4 linked regions of the Homo sapiens genome follow. The protein of the gene in region 3 purifies or fractionates together with the protein of the main gene of each other region. This does not show direct contact. Each region holds a gene or a part of one and is shown on either strand. Other genes may lie near its edges. The genes, in order: EXOC7, EXOC3, EXOC5 and EXOC1.

Region 1 (6,300 bases), on a different chromosome or scaffold from region 3:
GGGGCAAGGGGAAGGGGCAAAGGCAGACAGAAGGCGAACTCCCAGGTCTGTGTTCAGAGCAGTCTACCCCAGGCTTAGGCGGGCAGCACCTGCTCTCCCACTGCGCCCCCCACTCGAGTGGCAGCCCATCTCTGTGCTCAGCGGTAGCCTCAGGGCCCCTCTCTAGGGTGACAGACTCAAACATTCGCAGCAGCTCTGCAATCCCAGAGGTCCGAGCACATCAGTCTTCTGTCCTCCCCAGAGCAACTGCCCTCCACAGCCATGGCGACTGCAGTGGCTCGGCCCCTTGCAGCAAGGCCAGAGGCTCAGGTTGCCATGGCCTCACTCCTGGAAACCACCTGAAGGTGCAGCCACCCTGTATAAACCCATCAGGTGACATCTAACTTGGCAGAGAAGTCCTACCCTTCCCTCCATGAGAGACCACAGCGGTAGCCCTGGGGATCCTGCTTCAGCTGTGAGATGATAGACTGACGAGCCTGTGACCACTTCTCCCTCCATCATGAAGTGGTGCAAAGTACATTTATTTTTACAATGAAAGCTCATCTATGAATCTGATAAAGGCCTTCCTTCAACTGGAGACAATTTGGGATGTTGCAAAACAAGGTTTGGGAAGCCCTTCTATGGATCGGTTTTGTGTCCAAGTCTGTCCCTGCCAAAAGCCATCAAAAGTCTCCATCACCCCTGGGCTCCAGTCTGCTACCCCCAGACTTGGCAGCTGGGATCTCTCCTTCCTGGTTCATAGTTCTCATTCCCACCCCTCAGCGATGGAGTTAGAGTTCCAGGCCCACGTGGTGAACGAGATTGTGAGTGTCAAGAGGGAATACGTAGTTTATGATCTGAAGACCCAAGTCCCACCCCAGCAGCTGGTGCCCTGCTTCCAGGTGACGGTGAGTCAAGTCGGGAGGAGGCCGACAGAGGGCTGCTGGAGGCGGGTGGGAGTGAGGATGCACGGCCAGAGGCCAGGCCCCATGCCCCCGATGCCCACCTCCTTCCCCCCCGCCGGGAAGGCCCTGACTTTTCCCCTTCCAGCTGAGGCTGAAGAACACGGCGCTCAAGTCCATCATCGCTCTCTTGGTGCCTGCAGAGGCACTGCTGTTGGCTGACGTGTGCGGGGGGTTGCTGCCCCTCCGGGCCATTGAGCGCATAGGCTACAAGGTGACATTGCTGCTGAGTTACCTCGTCCTCCACTCCTCCCTGGTGCAGGCCCTGCCCAGCTCCTCCTCCTGCAACCCACTGCTCAGTAAGCCCTGCTCCCTTACCCAGTCTGCCCTGTTTCTCCCCGGTCACCCACTGGTGCTCAGCTCGCTGGGCACCAGAGACACAGGGACTGGCCCCTGAGCATCTCCCTGTGCCCTGCCTCCCCCAGTTTACTACTTCACCATCCTGCTGCTGCTGCTCTTCCTCAGCACCATAGAGACTGTGCTGCTGGCTGGGCTGCTGGCCCGGGGCAACCTTGGGGCCAAGAGCGGCCCCAGCCCAGCCCCGAGAGGGGAACAGCGAGAGCACGGCAACCCAGGGCCTCATCCTGCTGAAGGTGGGCAGGGGCTGGGGGGTAAGGAATGAGGCCTAGGTGCACACCTAGGGCTGGGGTGAGGGCACGGAGGTCCAGGTGTGGGTAGAGGCCCCTTGCATCCACCCTGCTGGCTCTCCTGTCCCTGGTCTCCACCATGTCCTCCTCCCTTAGAAGAAACAGGTCTGGGGCAGGGAGCAAGCTGAGCCTCCCTGAAGTCCCAGGTGACCTCAATCCCCTGATAACCCATGCCTTGCACAGCCTAAGAGGGTGTTTCTTCAACTGAAGATGGCCTGAAATGGGCCAGACCCAAATTTTCATCAGCTGAGAATCTAAGAAAGGAAGCGATACAGGCTGATGACCCCTGGGGTTCGCTCTTCCGCTCATGTTGAGGGGACCTTGAAGAACAGCTCCTTTCCCTGTATCTCTCCCCACAGAGCCCTCCAGAGGAGTAAAGGGGTCACAGAGAAGCTGGCCTGAGACTGCTGACCGCATCTTCTTCCTCGTGTATGTGGTTGGGGTGCTGTGCACCCAATTCGTCTTTGCAGGAATCTGGATGTGGGCAGCGTGCAAGTCTGACGCAGCCCCTGGAGAGGCTGCACCCCATGGCAGGCGGCCTAGACTGTAAAGGGGCAGGGCCTGGGCTGCACACCTTAGGATGAAGTTTGCTTTCCCATGGCTGGGGGCGGGCCATGACAGGGCCTCTGGATTAAGCCACCCTGAGCTCTCCCTCCGCTAGCACACAAGCACAGAGCGTGAAATAAACCCATCTCCAGTGCAAGTGTGCCTCAAGGGTCAGTCTTCAATCTCGTCCTAAATAGGTGGGGCCCTATTTTTTGCTTCCAACCCCCATTTTGCTCCTTAACTTTTCCCCATTGTCCCTGTCTCCCAGCCCACAGGCAGGCAGCCTAATTGCTCCTTCTGCAACCACGACTGCCTGGCCCTGGGCCAAGAGGCACTGAGGCTGGGGGCCAGAGACAGGGGCCTGAGGAAGGCTGTAGAGGGTGGGGCGGAACTCCTCCTCCGAACGCCTCCTGCAGTGTGCTGGACTCTAGGGAAAATGGCCAGTGAGCCTGCCTCCCCCAGCCACCTAGGGGACTCCTGGGAGGGAAAGGTCCCAGACCTCAGGCCTGTGGGCGGGCGGGAATGTGTTTTAAGAGAGGGGGTCAGTCCCGACTGCCTTTCCTCCAGGAGCTCTGGCTGCTTCTCTGAGCCCTGCCACATCTCTGGGCTGTAGGGGAGTTCTCTGTCCCCACCTCTGACCTAGGCTGGAGGGAGGGCCCTTCTGCCCTGCTGCTCTTGGTACACATGGAGCAGCAGTGGGCACAGGCCTCTGTCTTCCTTCTCTCTTTTCCTGTTTCAGAAGCCATCAGGGTCATAAAAGCCAAGGTGTGGAGGGACCCCAGGCTTCCGGGAGAGTGCTGGTTCGGCTGGGAACACGGGCTGTGGGGAAAAAGCAGGAGCCAGGACTAGGGGGCTCAGGGACACAGCTCCCGGAGGCGTGGAGACAGGTCTCTGTCCCAGAGGACTTCAAGCTCACCCAGCCCAGAGGCAAGCTAACACTGGTTTATCTGTCCAATGACACGCCAGTCTGGTGGAACCAGGCAGGGCTAGCAGCAGGCTCAGGCAGAGGTGTCGAAAAGGCGATCGATCATGTCGCCCACCTGCTCCACCCCGTACTTGATGTACTTCTCCGGGTTCTTGGTGAAGGGCACGCTGCCAAACCTGAGGAGGCACTGTGGTCAGGGGACAGGGAGGGCCGACCCCTCCCCAGCTCCACCCTCAGCCTAAGGCACTCCTGATAGTCTTGGAAGGGGTGGCCCTGAGCGATTCCCTGTCTGGCCCCGCCCCAAAGCCCAGGTCGCTGGATCTGCTGCCTAAATCCACCACCCTTCTCCTTTTTCCCTTGAGGAAGAGGAGCTTGAAGAGGCCCACTGGGGCTGTGGGCAGCACAGGCTGGGAGGGGAATGGAGGCCTCACTTCTGTAGAAAGGCCCCGTAGGTCTCCTTGACAATGGTCTTCTGGGCCTGGCGAATCCTGTCCCTCTGCTCTGTGTCTGGAATAGCCCAGGCCTTCTGGATTTTGCACAGTTCTTCGAGGCCATCATTGAAGCCCTGGCCACCAAAAAGGTGAAAAAGGAAGGCACCCAGAGACAAACATTTTGGGTCTGTGTTGCCTCAACAGCAGCAGCAAGCAGTGGAGGGGAGAGGACCCCGACTCACCTTAAAACGCTCCTTGATAATCTGCCGCTCCTTGTCCCGGAGCTGGGAAGCCAGGAGAGATAGCAGAGAAAGCTCACTTCAGAGCAGAGCAGCCTTCCCCCACTCTTCCCCAAACACCCTTGGTCTGGGCCTGTCTCCTGTGTCCTGATGGCCACATGCATCCTTTGCTCTCTGATCCCAGAGGGATGCTTGTCCACTTTTTCCCAGAGACACGACAAAAAGTATCCCGTCTGCCAGACACCCCTTCCCAGCCCAGGTCTTGAGCCCACCTTGACTCCCGGCTGGAACACAGGTAGATTCTTCTCTGCGATGTAATCAGTCACCTTTAACCAGCTGCCAGACAGAAAGAGAAGCATGAGGGCAGAGGGTGGCCTGCCTCAGTGGCCTGGCTTGTTTCGTTTGCTAAATCTCTGGATCTACTTGGTGGGTGGTGGTAGGAAGGGATGTGGGTCACAACTAAGCAAACAACAGGTTTTCTTCCTGGGAAGAGAAAATCTTTAAACTGGTCACTTTTTGAGATAACATTAGGAAACACTTGAGTGTTCAATAAATTGGACAAATACTGTCAACTATACTTCACATCAATATCGTGGCAAACTAAGATGGAGAAACAGATGAGAAAGAAAGGAGTGGAGGGCAGATAAATGAGAAGGAAGAGGTAGACACATTCAAAGGGAAGAAACAAAGCCAGGAAGAAAGAGGACCAGAGAAGCAGCGGGATCCTCACAGAGCAAGGCTCAGCCACGTTCAAGTGCTCTCGCGACCTTGCTCTTCTCCTAGGTAAACATTACCCACGTCTCTGAGAGCCAGCTCTTCAATCATTCTTAGCCTTGACACTTGGCAGACTCCCCTCTAAAGTGGCCATAGTGGGCCCCTAGGAGCAGGTAGTGGTAGAGGAGGGGGCTTCTCTCTCCACCCCGTGAGTTTGATTAGAAACCAAGTGGAGGATTAGGGTCCAGAGGACAGGAGTTCCCCGTGACCGACTCTGTGTCCTGAGGTGCTGAGAAGGAAGAGTGCGTGGTGGCACAGGGGCCCATGCAGGAGCAGGGCGGGCCCAGCCTCTCACCTGCGCTGGTAGGTCTGGATCTGCTGCTCAATGTGCTCCCGGTAGGAGCGCTCAGCAGTCTTCTGTGTCACTGCCACCAGCTGGATCAGTTCAGACCTGGGTCGGGGTAGGGGACAGAGGAGAGGAGGACAGGATTGGCTCCTCAGGCCCAAAGGCTGCGGCAATGCCGGGAGGGCCTCCCATTGCACCCCAAACTCCACAAGCTCTATGGCATCCCACCTTCCGGGTCCTGGGGTGGAGGAGACTGAAGCACCCCCTCCCCTCTCGTCCACAAGAGAAGGAGCCCAGGGGGGCAGGGGCTGGCACAGCTGCACAGCCGAGGGGAAGGTGAGAGCCGCAGACTCACTCCCGCAGGCCACTTACTTCTCCAGGGACTTGAGGATGTAATTGTAGTTGTTGTGCAGGAAGATGGCGCTCAGAGCTGGGTCCTCGTACACCTTGGACTTGCTCAGCAAGTTCAACTGCAGGTTGCCCAGCACTTTACCTGCACAGGGAAAAATGGGGCCACACCCACCATGGCAGTCTGACCCAAACGACCCCACCCCAGGACCCGCGAACGCGCTCCTATCCATCGCTCCTCGTCCTGCCTCAGGAGGCCTTAGCCCAACTCCCCTCAGCCTCTGAACTAGAGGTCAGGTTGTGGTTCCAAAGATCAGATGGCACTTAGGAGAGGGCCCTGGGAATAGCCAGAGAGCACAGACAGAAGGAAGGGAAAGGCAGGGCATGCAGGCAGCAGGGCTGCTGGTCTGCCCGGGAGAACACTCACAGATATAGGTGCTTAGCAGCCGCTTGCTGAACTCAGAGCTGTAGCTGGTGGCCGAAGAGCTGGTCTCTGTGAGAGGAGAAGTCCTGTTATTGCAGTGGCAGCAGCCAAGACCCTCAACGGCCCTTCCCCCAGGCCATGCAGCAGTCTGAGGGGACACTGAGACAGGCCCTGGGCTTCCTTGGGCAGAGCTGGCTGCCTGCTAAGCCACAGGGTGGCCCCTGCCGCAGGAAGCACCAGCCCTGGAGTTTTTGGAACCCAGAGCTGCCCTCTATGATGGGATGGAGCTGGCCCATGTCAGCAGAAAAGCTGGCAGGAAAAGAGTGAGATGCCAGCGCCCTGTCCCCTCCTGCCCCCACCCACCCTGGGTGGTTTCTACAAGGCCCCCTTTTTCCTTTTGTCAACAGCAGAGTCTTAGAATGGGCTCCCCACAGCCTCTCCACCTTCTCCCCTACATTCGAACATCCCCTCTACCAGACCCTACTGAACAGACGAAGCTGCGGCCTGCACAGTGGGGAAGGCCGAGTGGGGACAGCAAGGCAGGGAGGCCGGGCGAGCCTAGGGGGTGTATCCAGGGCTCTAGCCTGGGCAGGTGCTGCGGATAAGCTCAGAGACAGAGTGGCCTTGAAGGGAGCAGAGAGAGTTGAGAGCACCCCGAGAAAACTCATGTCCCCTCTGACTCAGGCTCCCCAGTAGGTACTGAGAGTCAGTCCCCAGGGAACCTCACCCACCAAGCTTC
Region 2 (7,028 bases), on a different chromosome or scaffold from region 3:
AACTGTGGTTAACTGTGGTCATTTGCAGCTCTCAGCTGGGCAGTGGCTACCGAGGCCCCACCTCCCACCCCGCAGGCAGCTGTGCATGTGCTGATGTGTTCCTAAAGCTGCCTGCACACAGCCTGCAGCCTGGCTGGGCAAAAAGAACCCTGTCCTCCACACCGGAGATCTGTACTCAGATCACTGACTGCTGCTTCTGACCACAGAGGTGCGAAGAGGTAAGTGGCCACTGTTGCATCTTCCCCTGTTCACAGGTCCCTCCTCACCCCCACAGAGCTCCAGGGAATTTAAAGGGCCAATGTCTTCACCACCCCCTTCATCTGTTCCCCTTCTTGAAAGCCAGATATTTATGAATGAAGACATTCAAAAGTAACTGCATTTATAGGAAAAATTCGGAAGTGGCCAATGCATGCCCAGGCAAAGGCATAGGCTCAGAAAAGACTTGACACGACCTTGAAGTTCACACCTCAGGCTGTGCCTTGGCACAGAGAGCCTACAACAACCAAAAACAAGAATCATCAACCTGGGAAGGGGATCTGATTTCCAGAGTTATCACATTATTCGATTCAAGTGTCCATTTTTCAACAACAAAAACATCACAAGGCACCCAAAGAAAGAAGAAAGTATGGCCCATTCAAAGGAAAACATAAGAAACTGTTCCTGTAAAAGATCTGATGGCAGATCTACTAGAGAAAGACTTTAAAACAACGATTTAAAGATGCCTAAGGAACTTAAAGATGTGAAGAAAGACATGTATGAGCAAAATGGAAATACCAATAATGAGACAGAAAATCCAAAAGGAAACCAAACAGAAAATATGAAGCTGAAAAGTACAATAAATGAAATGAAAAATTCACTAAAGGGATTCAAAGGCAGATCTGCACAGGCGCAAGAAAGAATCAGTGAATGTGAAGACAGGACAATGGGAAATATCAAGTATCCGGAACAGAAAGAAAAAAGATTGAAGAAAAGTGAACAGAGCCTCAGGGACCTTGTGGACATCATCAAGCAGGCCAACATATGCTTAGTGGGACTTTTAGAAGGAGAAGAGAGAAATGGGCAAGACATTATTTGAAGAAATAATAGGTGAAAACTCCCCACATTTGATGAAAGACATGAATATGAAGATCCAAGAAGCTCAATGACCTCCAAGCAAGAGGAACTCAGAGGTCCACACTAAGATACAACTTAATCAAACTTTTGAAAGAATTCTGAAAGCAGCAACTTGTCAGAAACAAGGGCTCCAAAATAAGATTATGAGCAGATCAGATTTCTCACCAGAAACTTTGGAGGCCAGAGGCAGTGGGATGACATATTCAAAGTGCTAAAAGAAAAATACTGTCAACCAAGAACCTTAAATCTAGCAAAATGGTCATTCAAAAGTGAGAGCGATATTAAGACATCCCCAGATAAACAAAAGCTGAAAAGCTTGTTACCACAAGATCTGCCCTGCAAGAAATGCTTAAATAGAGTCCCACTGGTTGAGAAGAAAGAATGCTAGAGAGCAACTGGAAGCCACGTGAAGAAGCAAAGGCCTCAAAAAAGGTAAATTCATGGACAATCGTAAAATCTAGTATCATTAACACTTCAGTTTTTAACTCATCACTCTGTTTCGTACATGACTTAAGAGACTAATATTTGTTCTGGTTAAAAGGGACAAATAAAAAAGAAACTAATACATTAAAAAATAGTCTAAAAGCTACTAATACTGTAACTTTGGATTCTAACTCCACATTGTTTTCTACCTAATTTTTAAAAATGAATGCATTAAAAAACAATTATTAGTCTATGATTTTGGACACATGATATATAAAGATGTAATTTTGTGAAATGAACAACCCAAAGGGAGTGGAGATGAAGCCATATAGGGACGGTTTTTGTGTGTTATTGAAGTTAAGTTGATATAAATTCAAACTGAAGCGAGATAATGTTAGATGTTAAGTGTAATCTTTATGGTAGGCACAAAGAAAACAGCTATAGAATATACGCAAAAGAAACAAGGGAATTAAAATGTTTACTACCAAAATAATCAAAAGCACAAAAAAAATGCAGAAATAAGAGACAAAAATGTTATACCGCATATAGAAAACAAACAGCAAAATGACAGAAGTCCCTTCTTATCAGTAATCACTTAAATGTAAGCTCTTCCATCAAAAGAGGTAGGCAAAATTAATTAAAATCTTCAATCAAAAGAGGTAGACAAAATAGATTTAAAAAATAAAACATGATTCAACTCTATGTGTTCACCAGAGACTGACCTTAGAGCCCAAGACACAAATAGGTTGAAAGTAAAAGGGTGGAAAAAGATATTCCATATAAATAATAACCAAAAGAGAACAGGAGTGGTTATACTAATAAATATGAAATATACTTTAAATTAAAAAAAAAAAAACTAGTCACAAAGAAGGCCATATGTATTAATAGAAGGTTCAGCAAGAAGATGTAACAATTATAAATATTTCTGCATTTACTAACAGACCGTCAAAATACATGAAGCAAAAATGGATAGAACTGAAGGGAAAAACATTCAGTTCTGTAATAGTCGGAGGCTTCAATATCTCTCTCTCAATAATGGACAGAACAAGCAGACAGAAGCTAAACAAGGAAAGAGAGGACTTGAACAATGCAACCAACCAACCAGACTGAACAGACACAGAAAGAACACCCAACAACAGAACACACACTATTCTCACGTGCACATGGGACAGTCTTCAGGAAAGACCATGGATTAGGCCTCAAATTAAGACTCAGGTTTTTAAAAGATAAATATCATACAAAGTATCTTCTCCAAACTCAACAGATGACATTAGAAATCAGTATCAGAAGGAAAACTGTAAAATTCACCAATTTGTGGAAATTAAACAACATACTCTTAAACAATTAATGGGGCAAAAAAGGAAACATAAGGGACTTTTGTTTTGTTTTGTTTTGTTTTTCAGATGAAGTCTCGCTCTTGTCCCCCTGGCTGGAGTGCAGTGGTGCGATCTCGGCTCACTGTGACCTCTGCCTCCTGGGTTCAAGTGATTCTCCTGCCTCAGCCTCCTGAGTAGCTGGGATTACAGGCGCCTGCCACCACGCCCGGCTAATTTTTATATTTTTAGTAGAGACGGGGTTTCACCATGTTGGCCGGGCTGGTCTCAAACTCCTGACCTCAGGTGATCCGCCTGCCTCAGCCTTCCAAAGTGCTGGGATGACGGGCGTGAGCCACCGCACCCAGCCATAAGGGATATTTTTAAAAACCTAAGAGAAGAATGAAAATGCAGACGAATCAGAAACCTCACACACTCATGGTGGAAAATGCTGCAGCCACCGGAGGAAACAGTCTGGCAGCTGCTCAAAGATTTAAACATAAATTACCACATGGTCCAGCAATTACACTTGTGTGTATATACCAGAAAGAAATAAAAGTAAAACATCTGTACACCCATGTTCACTACAGCATTATTCACAATAGCTAAAACGTGGAAGCAATTCAAATGTCCACCAACAGACAAACGGATAAGCAAAATGTGGTCCATCCATACAATGGAATATTATTCAGCCTTAAAAGTGAAGGAAATTCTACAATACCACAGCATAGAAGACCCCTGAGGACATCATGCTGAGTGAAATAAGCATGTCACAGAAAGACAGATAATGTGTGATGCCACTTCTATGAGGTCTTCAGAGTCATCCAATTCACAGAGACAGAAGGCAGAATGGTGGTGACCAGGAGCTGGGGCAGAGGGTGCGAAGTCAGTGTTTAATGGGTACAGATTTTCATGTCTGCAAGATGAAAAGAGTTCTGAAGACGGATGTGGCAATGGTTGCACAACAATATGAATGTTCTTAATAGTCCCCAACTGTACACTTAAAAATGGTTAAGACGGCAAACTGTACATATGCATTTTAGAAGAAGAAAAAATGGGGGAGGGGAGCTGTGTACACAGCATTGCTGAGTTATAGGCAATGAGACAAGTCTGAAGGCAACCAAACCAATCTTCTCAATGAAAATTTATCCGTAACAAAAAACATGCATACCACGCAGGCTCATTTGTTCACCAAGGAAAGGAAATTATTTTCAACTGCTGTGGATAAACTAATTCCAGTAATGCACCTTTTTGGTCATCAGGCATTAGTTTAAAAGACCGGAAGGAAATGTAGCCAGCCAATACGAAATAAGAGGAAATTAACTAGAAAGCTGCCAGCTGAGCATCACCAAGGAGACTCCGTCGAGAGGACTTTATTCCTGTTCCAGGCGGCCCACAGTCACCAAGAAGAGCTGCTTTCTGAGTTGGCAGCACAGTGGCGTTCGTGTTGGGCATGCACAAAGAGACACGGACTGCAGCCACACATGTGACCCTACGGATCATGCCCTGGAAGAAGGGCACACACAAAGCAACGGGACAAGGTGCTCGGCAATGCTGCAGCCGCAAGCACGAGAGGAGGGCAGAGAGGACAGGGTGGACGGGACACGGATTACCAAGGTGCGCTGTGGGCAGCTGGGGAGAACCGCGCCAATTCACACGTGGCCTCAGGAGCCGAGCAGCGTCACAGATGATGCAGCACAGCCACTGTGAAGGGTGAGCTGGGGCACGTGACGGCTGGGGATGGGGAAGTGTCATACAGACATCAGGGCAGAGACGTCTGGTAGAGGAACAGGAAGAACTTGCCAAGAGGCCAGAGACAGGAACAAAGAAAGGGAAGGAATCAGACCCTGCCAAGGCTTCTGAGTTGGGGACTGGAAGGATGCTGCTGACCTTGACACAGAGCGGGGACCAAGGGGAGGGATGAGGCTGTGGAAGCAGCTCCTGTCACAGCAAGCAGGAGGAGACTGTGAACACAAATGCTGGGAGCCACCACCCAGGGCCAGCTGGCACCGTTCAGGGACAGGTTACAGGGCCCTTGGCATCCTTCTAACTGAGGCATTCAGGGAGAAGACTGAAAGGGTCACTCCCCCACGGCGCTCAGCCCCGCCTCTGCCCTGGCCTGTGCACACACGCTTCTCCTCCTGCCTGGGAGCTGCTGCTCGCCTCAACCCTTCTGCTCTGGGATCTGCTTGCTCTGTCCCATGCACAGGGTGGCTTCTCCTGCAGCTCCTTTTAAGCATGGGCCACGGCGTCTTCATTCTTCTGCACTCACAGAGTCTAACAGCCACATCGCAAGCAAGGGAACGACACTCAGCCAGGGAATCCCTCCACACTGCATTTGCTGGGCAGCCCGCTTCTGGGCCTCTGTCCTGACACTGAACTACAAGCCTTCTCCTAGCCTTTACATGCTCAGCTGATCACTTCCATCCACGTTCAAAAAAAGACGCTGAGCAGACAAGAATCACACTTACCGTCTACAGGTCTACAGTGCGGGCTGCAAAGCACACTGCACACAGAGCACTCAGTGAGTCATGCAAAGACAGCGTGAGTGGGGGCAAGTGCCTCGGCGTCTGGCTGGTACCTGAGAAGATGTTCTTGAGGTTCTCCACGGCTGCGGCGAGCTGGCTGTGCTGCACCACGGCGTCTTTGACGTCCTTGAGGCTCTCAATGGTGTTGATGCTCTGCCTCCAGTCCTTGCTGACGTCTGCCAGCGACTGCTGGATGTCTTTGACGTCATTCAGGGCGTTGTGGAGCTGGCTGAGGCCTGTGCGCACCCCGTCCAACTGTGACTGGATGGCGGCCTAAAGAGAGACGCCACACGGGTGAGCAGAGCCAATGATAGCCATGCGCTGCCTCCTGAAGAACAAATCTTCCCCAGGAGGGTCAAGTTCAGGAAAGAGCCACTGAGTAGCAGGAAACAGTCAATACCCAGAAAAGAAAATAAAATCAACAAGGATTTAATTGATTCACAGTGTACCTTTTTCTTCATTGCTGCCTGGGAACAGAACAATGATGCATTTTAAAGCCTTGATGAGAAAAGGTCAGGACACTCCTCATCTAGCCTCACACCTGGTGATCCTGGACACTACCACGGGTCTGCCCTGGGCCGTGGCCTGCTACGGTACCTTCAGAAGGATGTCACCCATGCTCTCCCAGGCATCCTAGGTTCCTAAAAGGTCTTGTCTAGGCAGAGAGAACGGTCAGGACTTCACTGGCTTGGGGTGGGGGAGTTCCTGCTGTTCAGCCAGCACCACACTTGGCCCCAGGACGGCTGACCCACAGGACAGAATCGGCACCTGAGCTTCAGATCCGCTCTCTGTCAAATGTGAGTTAAAACAATCTGAACAAAATGCCCTCTAGTGGTGCTCTGTAGAAGAGCTTTAAATAAGACTACTTCTCCTTCCTCCAGTATTGTTTAAAAACTTAATAGACACTTTCAGGGTGTTGTTTTTGTTTCTGTGTTTTTTTTTTCTTTTTGAGACAGAGTCTCACTCTGTTGCCCAGGCTGGAATGCAATGGCACCATCTCGGCTCACCGCAACCTCTGCCTCCTGGGTTCAAGCGATTCTCTTGCCTCAGCCTCCCAAGTAGCTGGGATTACAGGCGTCAACCATCATGCCTGGCTAATTTTTGTATTTTCATAGAGACAGGGTTTCACCATGTTGACCAGGCTGGTCTTGAACTCCTGACCTCAGGTGATCCGCCTGCCTCGGCCTCCCCGAGGTGCTGGGATTACAGGCATGAGTCACCGCACCCGGCCTCAGGGTGTTTAAAAGCTTGTTCCTTTGGTGTTTTCACCATTCCCACTGTCTTCTAAGCAAAGCTACTGAGTGGTAATACACTGCTGAAAGTAACTGCTCAAGAAAGTCCAGCTCTGCCTCCTTGCACATTACCATAAAGGCTAGTTTAGCAAAATCATCATGGTGATGTCAAGCAAGAACCTGAAGCCCAAGACAGATCCTGGGAGTGGGGCAGGTGGCCTCACCTTCAATCTGGCCTCCACGGAGGCCTTCTTCCGCGCTTCTCTCCTGCGATACTGCTCCACCTTGTCCAGCTGGTCCGGGCGCTGGAGCATCCCAGCAACCCTTTGCACTGCTGTCGCAACGGCCTCCCGGTCTGTCTCCTTCATGGTGAAAAAGCTGGTGGAATCCTCACACTGTTCATGCTAGGGGTGTTCTCT
Region 3 (7,028 bases):
TTTTCATTGGTGTATCCTACTGTGCCCTAGATTTTTTTCTTTTATACTTAAAGATTAATGAGAAACTGTATTTCCTCTTTAGCTAAGCTGGTATACATTCCTGTGTAATGAGTGTAGAAAAACTTTTATAGGCCTGTGTAAAAGTCTGTGCTTACGTAAGAAAACAAGTGGAGAAGATTAAAAATTCCATGGATGGGAAGAATGTGGATACAGTTTTGATGGAACTTGGAGTACGTTTTCATCGACTTATCTATGAGCATCTTCAACAATATTCCTACAGTTGTATGGGTGGCATGTTGGCCATTTGTGATGTAGCCGAATATAGGAAGTGTGCCAAAGACTTCAAGGTATGTGTACACAAAAACATCAAACTTGCAAATAGGCCCAGGAGCATAAGTCAGATTATTAAAAATCACTATTTACTTATAATTAGTGAAAGGTTTATAACTTTTGTTGATATTGTATGAGATAGATTATCACATTCTACCTGAAACAGTGTTGTTCCAATTATTATTTTTTTTTATTTTAAATTTTAAATTTTTATTTATTTTTTTTCCAAAGAGTTTCATGATGTTGCCCAGGCTGGTCTCTTACTCCTGGGCTCAAGTGATCTGCTGCCTCAGCTTCCCAAAGTGCTGGGTTTACAGGAATGAGCCACCACATCTGGCCCATATATTTAATATTAAACCCATTTTTGCTTTATGGTGTATTTTCAGTTCCACAGTCTTTGACTTATTGACATCCATGACTAATGTTATATATGTCACACATTAGGAAAAAAATGTTGTCTTCATTTATGTCCCCCTGAATATTTCTGTAACATTTAAATTATGAAAAATGCTGTATGTTAATAACTAGTTTTAGTCCTCTGAAGTATATATGATTGTTACTATTGAAGAGAATTGACACATGAATCTTTTTGAAATATTATAGCAAGTTTATTTAACTACTGAAATCTTTAAGTTTTAATGCATTGTGATCTTTAAAAAATTCTAATATGTTGAACTTCACCCACACTAGTAAGTCCCACCTGACAGTATGTAAAAAGTTACAAGCTAATTGTAAAACTGGAAATTGTTTTGTTTCAATGTTACTTTTTTTCTTCTCTCAATTCAGATTCCAATGGTATTACATCTTTTTGATACTCTGCATGCTCTTTGCAATCTTCTGGTAGTTGCCCCAGATAATTTAAAGCAAGTCTGCTCAGGAGAACAACTTGCTAATCTGGACAAGAATATACTTCACTCCTTCGTACAACTTCGTGCTGATTATAGATCTGCCCGCCTTGCTCGACACTTCAGCTGAGATTGAATTTACAAAGGAATTCAGTGTCAGTTCCTTTACAGAGGAATGTCTTATACTTCAGCAGCCCTCGGTTGATAGAAAGCACAGGAGATACCTTATGACACAGCCAACATTTTGTGAAACAATGACTGGAACAAAACAGCAGCCATACTTACCTTTGAGGTTTTATTTAAAGTTTGGATACCACTAGCTATATTTTGCTTTTTTCCCCTCACATTGAATTTTAATTCCATTCTTGAATGTAGAAATTTCAGATTCTCTAAAACTACATGTCACTGTTTTTATCCTAGAAAATGTTGCTGTCAGAAGGCAAAGGAAATGTTACCAGTGTTTTCGGTTCTTGTACTTTTAACATATTCCATTTAGAAATTTTGCCATTCTGTTTTCCATTAATAATAGGTGAAATACAGGAAAACTACATTTGTTATTCCTCAGTTTTTAATGACCTTTTCAGCATCAATTGTTAATCAGATTATTTTAGGTTTTCGTAAATAATTTTTTTGCCTCTTTCAAAAGGTTAACAATTAAGCATACTTTCTGCAGTTGGTTGATTGGATTTTTTTCTGAGGTACAGCATTAATACTAGTCCAAAAAATGTCATAAACTGAACTAAAATGATGAACTATTTTATGTAGACATTAGGAGTGGATCGGAATACTTCTGCTTTCTGGGTAAAACTTAAAAGTTTACTATTTCTTATTTGGTAAATAGATTTTAAGCCAATTCTAGTAAGAAATTAATAAAACTACCTTATTTTGTATTTCACTTAAGGTGGAGGACCTTAACTAAAGGACCATATTTATTCATTATTTTAATATTATAAGGGAAGTAAAAAAAAGTGAGGTATAGTCTAAATGGTGCATATAGGAAATACTGACAGTGTTTAGCAACATGCAGCCCTTTGAGATTTCTGTCGTAATGCTAAACTTGAATAAGATGGAATGGCTGAACATGTGGTTAGTCTTTTATTTTAAGAAGAATTGAGAATTGATAGATTTGGAGATGAGCTTTGCAAAGGCTGTTTGCTTTTCATGTCTATAGGTCTGTCATTGTCCTTTTTCAAAGCATTTCTGAAGTTATTCCTACTTGGATATAGTTAATGGAATTGGCTTAATTTGATGACATAATAAATCACTTATAAAATTTTAAATATCAAGTGAAAATTTAGAAAGGCCATTACTATTCTATAAACCTTATAAACTTGCTCTGGGAGAATGCATTCTAAATTATATATAGTGTTTCAGCTCCCATTGTGGTGTTCATAGTCTTCTAGGAACAGATAAACTTAAGTATTCAATTCACTCTTGGCATTTTTTCTTTAATATAGGCTTTTTAGCCTATTTTTGGAAAACTGCTTTTCTTCTGAGAACCTTATTCTGAATGTCATCAACTTTACCAAACCTTCTAAGTCCAGAGCTAACTTAGTACTGTTTAAGTTACTATTGACTGAATTTTCTTCATTTTCTGTTTAGTCCAGTGTTACCAAGGTAAGCTGGGGAATGAAGTATACCAACTTCTTTCAGAGCATTTTAGGACATTATGGCAGCTTTAGAAGGCTGTCTTGTTTCTAGCCAAGGGAGAGCCAGCGCAGGTTTTGGATACTAGAGAAAGTCATTTGCTTGTACTATTGCCATTTTAGAAAGCTCTGATGTGAATTCAAATTTTACCTCTGTTACTTAAAGCCAACAATTTTAAGGCAGTAGTTTTACTGGCCATTTAAGCTCTTTGTACAGTGTCAATTTGTAAAAAAGAAAAAACGAAAAAAAATCTCAAATAAAACATGAGATAACATTTTAAGACTTCCAAATCAGAGAAGTGCTTCAAATTATTTTGTTTGGATTAATTTTTAAAATGTAAAGCATATACTTGTTGCTTAGTTATTTTGTTTATTATTTTCATGTTTGAGTTCTGTGCAATATTTTCTATTATGTCCGTTGATAGGACAGTGACAAAATTCGTAAGTGAATACTTAATTTAAAAGTGTTAACATTAATGCTCAATAAACAAATTCCCTGCAGTTGTTTTTTTTATTTCACTCTTTTTATATTTTAGAGCCATCCATCCTGAATTTTATAAATGATTTTTTATTTAAAAATTTGAGATTTTTAAAATTTTTCACAGCACAGGTCTTCTCATTTTCTTTTTTAGCAAAAAATACTTGACTATATAAACAAGACTAGAAATTTATCCTAAACAGATGGTCTTTCTCTGAGGGAAAAAAAAAAATGTGTCATGTGAGGCAATATGCATTCTTTGTATTCTGATTTTTTAAGTGTTTTCATATTTATAGCCATCACAAAATTTTGCCCAAAGTGTATGGCTCAGAAGAGATGATCAATAACTAAAATGTTTTTCGTTTTGCACATGGTAAAATTTTAGGTAGAGAGTGGAGCTTTGTATAATTGGTAACTTTAACCAACATTTACGTAAGTACGGTCTTTGCAGTATTACACAATACCGCATGAGCTAATATGCAGTATTTAGGTAATGCATTGAATGAAGTTGAAAATATGCTCTTAACACACTGTGCATTGTTTTTCTAAAATTGAGAAATATCTGAAATACAGAATACGAATTTAATAAAGGAAGCCTACCTTATGTAAATTATGATGTTGAAAATGACAGTCAACCAGAGTAGATGAAGTGTCCTTATGAAGAATTATTAAATAGTAGCTGGATGGATCTTTAGATGGATGACCACCTGACCATTCCAGGACAATTTTTGGTCCCATTTTGAGGATTGCCATAGTTGCAAGTCCTTAGGATCTTCCTTGTTTTAAAAAACTATCAAAGTAGGTTAAATTAAAATCTAATTTAAATTAGGTTAATTTATATTACATTGTAGATCATTCTTTTTTCCCCCCTCTTTCACTTCTAAATATTTTGCTTTCTAAATACTAGCCTTCTGGTTCACAGTGAAATAATTTAATTATCAATCAGTAGATTGATTCCAAGTGGAGAATTCACTGCTTCCCTAAAATGCGTTTTTCTTACCTGTAATGGTGAATATTTACAAGGATCTGGATAAAGAGATTTTGATTTTTGAAATGCCACAAAACCCCTTAAAGTGGTCAAGTACCTAAGGTAGTGGCTAAGGCATGCTTGAACTGTGTTTGAGAGACAGCAGTTCAGTCAGTACATAATTTGTTGGTGACTAACAAAGCTCACATCTGGGAGATTAACTTTTTTTAACGCAAAAATATTCTGCACATTACCCATATATTGTTGAATTTTACATACAAAGCATTTTGTGCTTTCATTCAATTAGTTTAACTATATTCAGTTTCTGTATTATTTCTCTCTGATCTATCCTGTAATTATTCTATACTTTAGAAGAAAAGATCAGTTCATATTGTTAGACTGAATAATTCTACATGAAGTTAAAAGTTAGCAATTTAAAAAATTTTGCTGCATAATAAAGATAATTATAGTTACATGTATTGATTTAAGTCTCACACACTGTGCTAATAAGTCCTTTGCACATATTATTGGATTCTAGAGCAACCCTAGGATTTGGGTACTATTATTTCCATTTGACAGATGAAAAACCTAATGCATAGAAAGATAAGTAGACCAGTCAAGGTCTACAGCTAGTAAAATGCTCAGATTGAAACCTAAATCTTTTCTCACTCACTTTTAGGTTCTATATGCTATTCTCCTTACGTAACGTTAAATAGATCCTTTAGTTTGATAGGTTCATTAGTTTTGCTTAATCGTTGCTTCCAATATGATTCTTATTGTAGTATTTATATTACAAAGTTGGCATACAGGGTCAATATCTAATTTACTGTTGTGTTTTTCTTAATATGTTCAATGTATGGTCATACTTTTTAAATTTGATTTTTTAAATATTATAAGTGGTCATGAAATTTTAATGTTAAGTTTGTACCTAATAGAAATATGTCTATCACAAATCTTTATTGGTATTATTTTATATACTTTTCCAGCTTGATAATTTTCACAATAGAAAGAGACCAAATATTTTGTACTATATTTTGTGACATAGAAGTAAATGACAACTCTACCTTGGAAGATATGAAGAAATCAGTGTTTTTATGTTCAAAAACTATTTTAAATGTCATAGGCTTGCCAATTGTGTTAACTATTTAGTACATTGGTAGTTTTTAAATGACTAATGCTGGAGTGAAAATGTAAGGCAAAATATTTAGTATATTAACAGTAGATAGTCATTTTCATGTAATCAGAATTGCATGTTAAGGGTTTTAAAAGCTGTCATAACTCTTACCTTTTATTTCTACCAGTGATCAATCATTTCTCTTTACAAATTTAGGGAGGAAACAACTGTTCAAATGTATAGGGGACAGAAACCTGACATTTAGAGAACAGAAATTTTAATTGCCAAATTAAAGCAGCTAGGCTGCCCCTGGGCTTAACAAAATTCCTATTTTTGAACTAGACCCGAGGTATTTTATCATTATTATTTGATAGGTACCATTAACCTTTGTTTTGTGATTATCGACTTTTGGGGGGAAAGATGAGTAATTAAACACACTCGCCCATTTTCTAAGTGGTTTAGAAGGTTGCAGTCTGCCTCACCATACAAAGCCAGTTTAAATAGGAATATATCACATCATACTTCACATAGCAGTCAACCTCAGAGGAAAGTCATTTATTCAGAAGGCATAGATTTTGCTAGACAGCAGTGATGCATTACAAATATATAATTATTTGCACTAATATTTGAGCAGGTGGAATGGATTAGAACATGGTCAACATCATGCTGCTGATAACATGTATTTTTCTATATTAATATGTACTGTGCAACATGTATTAAAATTGTCAATAATTCATTTTAGCCAAGATACTAATATTTATATTACTGTGTTTAAGAGACAGTATCCAACTGAGCCACTTTTAATTTAAAAGTCTGAAACTGGAATTAAGTTTACTTTCAAAAATCACTTAAATTACTTTATAATCAGTGAAAGGTCAGTAAAATGTAGAATTATAAGTGCCTAGTGACTTAATAGGAGGAAATATGGAGGGTTAAGGAAGGAAGTAGGAACCTGGAATAAGAAAGCTAAGTTTCATTTATAGTTCCAATGAGTGACTTTCTTTGTTTTCACCACTGGGAATCTTAAATGAAGAAAGTGTCGTATCCCTTCCAGTTATCTTTATGTTAATAAACTAAGTGAAGTTTGGATAGAACTAACAAAGGAATTAGTCTCCATTGGTGGACTTCCAGAGTTTTGAGATTAAACTTTGAGAGGTGAGAAGCCTTCCTGATGCCCCTGTAATCTTAAATTGGCAGGTGCCTCTAAGTGAGGCCATCCCTCTTTGCCTGCCTATCATTTTAATCTTTATACTGTAACTGGTTCCTTTCAACTCTGGCCTTTTATTGTAGCACTTTTATCAAGTCTGCAGCTTCCCAGCTACTTGGGAGGCTGAGGTGGGAAGAACACTTGAAGCTAGGAGTTCAAGACCACTCTGGGCAACATAGTGAGTCCCTGTTTTTAGAAAAATAAATAACCTTTAGGTTTTTGCTATAGAAAATATCCAAATAGAGTCTGGACAATGCTGGATGTAAAGAAAACTGTGAAGCTACCTCTAAGCATATTGTTTGTGAATACTGTGTACCATTTAGAGGATAACATGGGGGATTCACATGAAGTTATGTGAAAATATTTTATAAGGAATAATACCTAAGTGCCTCTCTTAAGTTCTCCAGTAGAATGTATTTTCAATTTTTGCCACAAGGGGGA
Region 4 (7,028 bases), on a different chromosome or scaffold from region 3:
AAAGGAATGAAGATGGAACGTTTTAATGAAGCTTGTCTCTCTCATACCATATTTCACAATTTACCAAGCAAATGACCTTCTTGATATAGCTTGAATTAAGAAACACAAATAGAGAAATCATTCAAAACAGTCTACATTTATGGTATTCCCATTAGAGTTTGTAATATTTAAAACAACAGATAAAAAAAAGTAGAATATAAAGTCTTAGAGCTTGGAATTGGAACCTTGGTCATCTGAGTCTTACTTCTGTCTTGGAGCAGATTCAAATTGAAAATACAATTTCCCAACAACAAGCAAAAGGCAAACCAAGACAGATTTATTTGATGTAATTTTCACTCAATCTAATTTGCCTAGATAGCCAGAAGTTATTTGTCAGCATTTTGTGAAAACTGTATTAAAATTACACAGACTGCTAGAGTTTTGGAGCTAGTTAACTCATTTCCTGATAAGGTTACCTAAAGCTAATTATGAATGTGTATCATACTAGTTGGTACACATTAGCTAAATAAGCGTCCTGAATTTAAATTCTTTTAAGTTAAAAGGGATTTCTTTCACCTAATTTATATACTGTACTATATACACAAAATAACCTAGTGGTTATGAATTTTAAAAAATTTTCTTTTAAATACAGACTATTCAGAAGGAAACATTTCTGGCCTAGAGGAAATGAGGAGTTCCTTGGTAACTGAGAAAGAAAGATGGGAGTATAAGACATGCCAAGTACAAAAACCCACATCATTATCCATGTCCCTTCTTCATAAATGTTTTCAAATCAGTCTGTTGGAAAATTTTCTTCATGTGAGAATATATCCCAATTTAAAATGGAAATTAAAAAGAAAAAAGGACCCATTATACAGAAATTACATATAAAATGGTAGAAAACAACCAATACACTTCTCAGATTCATCTTACTGATATCTACTTAGGTTAACTTGGGAAACTGAACTAGAGATGGCAGAAAAATATCACAAAATGAAACTGACCAGTTCAAAATAACAAGAACTAGAACACAGGGGCAACAGAAGTTCACAGCTACCACAGATGTTATACACAAGGTATATTAATAGGTCCATAATCCCTTTCTGTAATTCTGACAGCCAAAAAGCTCTGAAAACTCAGACTAAGCTTGGCACCAAAACAATTTTGATGGTAAAATGTGACCTGAACTGACATGGGCCTATTTATAGTGCTTAGAGTGACTATTCATATTTTTTGTTGCAAAAACATGTGCTTGGAGTGATTATATAATATACAGTATATATACTGTATTGCTTTTCTAAAATCTGAAACATTCTAAAAACACTCCTGACCCCCAGAATTCTGGATAACGGAGCGTAGACCTATGTGGATATTCTTTTCTGGGTGGCTACCTGAATATAAAACAATCACATCTTCCAAAAGAATCAATGAGGACTAAGAGCTAAAGTGTTGAAGAATGGAACAATTCTGTATTTTTAGAATGCCTGGGCTACCATATCTTTTCTGTAAGGGCTAACAATAAAGATGAACAAAATCAATAATATTAAGTAAAATACACAGGCATTACCATTGGACTATTATCTATTTCTATGTTGCCAAAGGTCAATATAAACATTCTATTACAGAAATGTTTTCTAACCAAGATGCCAGAAGGATAATCAGGATTCTACAGCATCACATGTATTAGATACTAGCCAGATATAGATATTATAGTTTTAGGTCTATAAATGTCTCCAAATTGTGTTTTATTTTTTAAAAATTTATTTTTATTAATAGAGATGGAGTCTTACTATGCTGCCCAGGTTGCCCCCAAACTCCTGGGCTCAAGTTATTGGCCCACTTCAGCCTCCCAAAGTGCTGGAATTACAGGTGTGAGCCACTGCGCCTGGCCTAAACTATGTGCCTTAATTGGTCACGCTGATTAAAGGGGAAGAATATTTGACAGACTTATATCATACAAATGTTTACCAAATAGTTTTTATTAGTAACAATGTATCGTTATCCAAAACAATCTTCCTCATTAATTTTTCTCAATGATTCAAGACTCAAAATTATTGTCTATGTTCTTCTACTACTGTTTACTCAGGCACAAATGTCAATTAACTTGTTCAAGGTAACCCAGCTAGGAGGTAGGAGAGTCAGGATTTTGAACCCAGGAAGTTTGGCTCTAGTGTCTGCACTCTTAAGCACTTTGCTATAGTGACTTTTTTAAAGAAATGATACATTGGGGTCAAAATTTGAATAAATTTTCAAGATTTGGAACTCCTTCTTTCTGTTATGGCATACTTACTTATTCTTTTCTTAAAAAAAAAATCTGAGCAAAGTTCCAACAAACCTCACAAAAATAGATCTTAATCACAAGTCTTTCTAAGCTTTTAACCAGAGATCATCAATCCGTGTTTACAAATATGCTTAAGGAAACAATTTTTGTAAAAGAAATTGAATGCTGGTGGTCTGCAATACAGGTTTTATTTTATTATAGCTTGTTTCTGTATATGTATGTTGAGAGAAAAATTTCTAAACTTAAGCATATGGTAAAAAGTTCCACAACTTCAGTTTTTTCCTGGTTGTACTTTTAGTTCAGTGCATTTCAGTTTATTTTCATTTTCTCTAAGTTATGTACATAATCAGTCTCATCATGTTGCTAAAGGCAAAAGTAGATAGAATCATGAGGTCTCTGTAGAACCAAAGGGGGAAACAAAAGGCAGAGAGTAGTTATCAAAATAAATCTTTCAAAAAACAACCAAAACAATTTTTTAAAGGACATATTCTTTATGCAAATATTTCCTCAATTTCATTAGCCTTAATTTGACTGTTTTCAATATCATAATCCTAATTAGTGTAAACTGACCAGATTCTCATTCTTGATCTTTCTAGATACAGAAATCCCTAGTAAATGTAAAAATTATGGGCAAGAGCCTATAATTTCAGGGGAAGTTGAGTGTGTAAGATCTGAAAGATCTAAAAGAAGCTAACTACTCTTTATGTAACATTACTCTCATATTATATTACAGTGATTATTATATTAAAATACACTTCAAGTTTCACTTAAGTATAGATAACACAGAAGTATTAATAGGAAAGTTGCATTACAGATAGCATGCTCTGGATCAGTCATTCCCAAATGCAAGATGTTTTTCCTGGCCTATAGCAATAAGAAAAAGTACAATGAAAGAAGTGAGTCCTTCATAAGGGTAAATGTATTAATTTTTAAAATCGGAAAGGAAATTCTTATTCTTTTAGTGCCAAAATGTCATTTTTAAAATGAAAAGATAATGAAAGTGGATAATAGTATTTCTTTTTAAAGGTCTTTATTTGGTAAAATAAAAAAATTGGTGATTTGGTCAGTCTCCGAATTTTATTTCTTTTAATTTTACTAATTTGTGAATTTTAAAAAGACTGAGAATCAATGCTTTGAAATTACTGTTATATTGTGAATAGATTATTTTCACTGGATTCTTCAGTACAATATTTGTAAATGTTGTAACTATACATTTGCTATAAACTGTATTGCATGGACTCGTTCAAGTCCTACCTTATCTGCAATTCCTTCCATATCTCACTCCTTAAATTCTCAATAAACTCACTTTTGATTAAACCTTTTTAGCACTTACAGTCCACAGTTCTACAATTAGCAATTTATTACATACATTGCTAATGTACATTAGTCTTAACTCCTTACAAAGAGTAAGTACATTAGTTTTAATTCCTTCTTACAAGCATCTTGAGGGTAGGAACTATTGCTTATTCTTATATATGGTAGACAGTGAGTACATAATAAGCATACAATGAAAATTCTGTGATTGCCAAAGAGGTGTACCATATTATTTTAATCAATTTTCCCAGCTTGTCTCCCTACCAGGAATAGAAATACCCATGTTTCTCAACAATTTTGCTAGGTGACCTGATGCACTGAATGCAACACTAAGAAAATCTTTCTTATGTGTGGGATATCTTCTTCCACCGTTTTTGGCACACCCCAGGTTGTCGCAGCGTTCTGATTTTTAACATGCATCACTCACATGTAATAACACATATCAGCTTTTCAGAAATGGGAAGCATTCATTTTAAACGAGGCCATTAGTTTACAAGGCAAGAAGCAAAATCATAAATAACTGCATGTTACAACAAACAGTTAAGGGTACAGAAAAGACTATTGTTTACTGGCTGGTATTTTCAATACTATCTAACAAATGTGGATAACATAATTGTCAACAGTGTCATTTTTAAAAACTAAGGAATTGTATAGAAATAGATGTTATTGAAGTAAGTACCTAACAAAAACATGAATTAGTATTTCCTATGTGACATTTAAGCTTACTTTTTTCTCGACACTTTTCAGTCAAGTGGAATGTTAAGGGAATCTCTCTGATTCCCCCCTACCGTGCTTTTAGTTAGGTGGTCTTCCTTTACACTCCCACAGTCTCGCTGTCATAACATTTATCCCTCTTGAGTATATTATTTGTTTGTCTCGCTTCCCTAGACTGTGAACTACTAGAGGACAGGATTGGTCTCTCATTTATCCCAAGTTAATGTCTGGTATGTACCTCAATCACCTGGCAATACTAAATAAATGAAGGATTAATATTACTACTATTACTAAATGAAGGAGTAATATTACTATTTATTACTAAATGGAGTGAAAAAATGACAGAAAGAAAAGCAAGCAGAATGAGATTAAATGCTTTTTTGGCCAAAATAGTCTCTACTATGGGACATTTAAAAACTGCTACGAATGTGGTTAACAGGTAGCTTAAATCAGTAAGTTATAATCTGTAAAGATTCGGCTGCTGTTAAGTTTAGCAAACTTTATAGAAAAAAAAAAACAGAATCAGAGAAGCTTGAGCCAAATTTGATGTACTCACAGGAACCGAAAGAAAGTAGGACCTGTTATAGAGTTGAAGGAGGGCCTGAGTAAACTAATTGGAAATAAAATATAGTAAATACAATTGTTTTAGAATATTGCAAAGTGAAAATAAAGTAAAAATCCATTGTTTTCAGGCAGTATTTCTTGATGAACGAGATATTCCCCCAATTTTTTTTCATTCTATAACTCTAATAAAATAAAAGGGACTTTTAAAAGAGATGAAAAAATAAGAAACCTAATTTATTGTATTAGATATTAAAATGGCTTTTATTCAAATCCCTCAAAGGTACTCTTAATATTATTAATAACAATATTATTACCACACTCTTAATTATAACATCCTTTTCCATATAAAAATATAGGTAAAGCATTTATATGAAGATTAGATCAACTGAAATTTGCAGTTGAGCTAGTCATTTTCTTAACAATTATACTATGTACTAAGTACATAGAACTTACAAAACATTTAAAACACTGAATCAAGTCCTGAGTCTCACCTCAAAATACTGAAAAATAAAACAGGTCCAATAGTAAATATCTAACAAGTTTGGACTTACTTTATAAATAAAAATATCTAAGTAGTATATGCAATTCATATGCATAGTTATTTGATTTCTAGAATCAGAGAGCATCAGCTGAAAGGAACTAGACTGTCTACCAAAAGAGGCAGCTGAGGCCCAAAGTACATCTATGAGCAAAGAGGCTCCTATTTCAAAATCTTAAAATCAAATATGTGAAGGAATTGACTGCAACCCCAATTAAACATATTAACATTTTTGTGGAAATGTAAGGTTAATACATAAATAAGCTATAGGAACATGCTCGTTTTAATAATAAAATAAAATTACCTGTTGAACAAAAACATTGTTGAGGTGACTGGCCAGTCTCCGGGCAAAAAGCTCTCGCAAATCACTGAATCGCTGCTGTTGCTGTTTGACTGCCAGAAGCAAGTCATGGCCTGACACAGAACGACATTTTGTGACCAGTTTAATGGGTAAAAAGATTTCCTTGATGTTTAATGGAACATTAAACGTATCTAACGTTTTGAAGAACCCAAAAGTTTTATGGGTGTATTCATTTACATGATAAAAGTTAAGCAGGAGAAAAATGGGATTTCACAGTAGTTCTCAAAGTGTGGTCTTGCCTCACCATCGCCTGGGAACTGTTAGAAATGTGGATTCTAAAATCTCAGCCCAGATCTGCTGAATCTGGGACTGGGGCCAGGCAATCTATGTTTTTAACAAGACCTCTAGGGATTCTGACGGACACTCAAGTTTTGAAATAATTGCTCTCGTCTAACCAAAGCACCTACTTTCTGCTGGGTTCTGTGGATAGTACTAAATAAAGATCATGGTGTTGACTATAGTCATTGAGGACAATTAGAAGGAGGAACTGAAGTAAAAAAGTTCCTAGTATCAATAGAAATAAGTTGGGAAATCAGTGAAACTTGAATAGCTAATAATGTAACCCTTAAACCACTTGTCTCATGTATTTCTTGTCAAAACCTTTATAACAAGTTACAGGCTTAGTCTCACATTCTTGGTCACATTTTTGTCATTTCTAATGAACATACCTGGTCGAAGAGCTACATTCATGCACTGCAGAAGGGCATCAGCAGCATTGGTGCAGGCCTCAATGCCTCTGGAAGAAGCAAGATCTCCTTCCTGAAGGGCCTTTATATGACCTTTGGCCAAGTCCATGTGGTTCTAGAATATATGCAAACACACCATTTGCATGTGTAATTTTGGGAAATTTACAGGCAAGATGCTATTCAGTCCTATCATTAGGTCTTTGGAATTATTTTAAATCCTGTTCTCACAAGGAAATTAAAAAATGTTTACAAATGGGTTTTATATATCATCACTAGTTTTTTTTTGTTGGTAATTTATGATCATACTTACCACAAGGAACTCTATCTCAGATAGGAGTTTTACATTATTAGTGTTACTAAGATGAATTAGGTGGTTGCTTTCAGAGATCTGATCCATTTGTTCTTTTACACTTTGGAGCATTTCCTCATAACTGCTCAGTTTCAATTCAATCTGATCTACCTCCTTTAGAGCCTCATCTAGCAATTTCATCAGGATGTTGACTTGTTTTTCAGATGCCATGATTGACTGGATGTTAGCCTACAAAGTTAAAGACCAAAACAAACAAACAAACAAACAAACAAACAAAAAAC

Evidence for each region.
Region 1: the proteins of EXOC5 (region 3) and EXOC7 fractionate together in Homo sapiens (co-fractionation; 4 studies listed by BioGRID and IntAct, with this or other methods). This does not show direct contact.
Region 2: the proteins of EXOC5 (region 3) and EXOC3 purify together in Homo sapiens (affinity purification with mass spectrometry; 8 studies listed by BioGRID and IntAct, with this or other methods). This does not show direct contact.
Region 4: the proteins of EXOC5 (region 3) and EXOC1 purify together in Homo sapiens (affinity purification with mass spectrometry; 5 studies listed by BioGRID and IntAct, with this or other methods). This does not show direct contact.

Annotation. Positions count from the first base shown.
Region 1 is NC_000017.11:76,080,516-76,086,815, forward strand, and holds the end of EXOC7 (exocyst complex component 7), read right to left. Parts: intron 5,631-6,300; coding exon 5,565-5,630; intron 5,283-5,564; coding exon 5,162-5,282; intron 4,895-5,161; coding exon 4,799-4,894; intron 4,066-4,798; coding exon 4,002-4,065; intron 3,775-4,001; coding exon 3,733-3,774; intron 3,625-3,732; coding exon 3,491-3,624; intron 3,236-3,490; coding exon 3,133-3,235; 3' UTR 2,139-3,132; coding exon of another isoform or gene 1,948-2,138; 3' UTR 1,535-1,947; coding exon of another isoform or gene 1,367-1,534; 3' UTR 1,241-1,366; coding exon of another isoform or gene 1,030-1,240; 3' UTR 888-1,029; coding exon of another isoform or gene 763-887; 3' UTR 501-762; downstream 1-500. Other genes in the region: ligand-gated cation channel ZACN precursor, read left to right, coding at 763-887, 1,030-1,240, 1,367-1,534, 1,948-2,138. UniProt on the Homo sapiens protein: Component of the exocyst complex involved in the docking of exocytic vesicles with fusion sites on the plasma membrane.
Region 2 is NC_000005.10:446,155-453,182, reverse strand, and holds part of EXOC3 (exocyst complex component 3), read right to left. Parts: 5' UTR 6,978-7,028; coding exon 6,834-6,977; intron 6,363-6,833; exon of another isoform or gene 5,975-6,362; intron 5,845-5,974; exon of another isoform or gene 5,791-5,844; intron 5,651-5,790; coding exon 5,431-5,650; intron 1-5,430. UniProt on the Homo sapiens protein: Component of the exocyst complex involved in the docking of exocytic vesicles with fusion sites on the plasma membrane.
Region 3 is NC_000014.9:57,202,886-57,209,913, reverse strand, and holds part of EXOC5 (exocyst complex component 5), read left to right. Parts: intron 1-131; coding exon 132-347; intron 348-1,116; coding exon 1,117-1,305; 3' UTR 1,306-7,028. UniProt on the Homo sapiens protein: Component of the exocyst complex involved in the docking of exocytic vesicles with fusion sites on the plasma membrane.
Region 4 is NC_000004.12:55,870,625-55,877,652, reverse strand, and holds part of EXOC1 (exocyst complex component 1), read right to left. Parts: intron 6,976-7,028; coding exon 6,748-6,975; intron 6,553-6,747; coding exon 6,420-6,552; intron 5,805-6,419; coding exon 5,695-5,804; intron 4,899-5,694; coding exon of another isoform or gene 4,845-4,898; intron 1-4,844.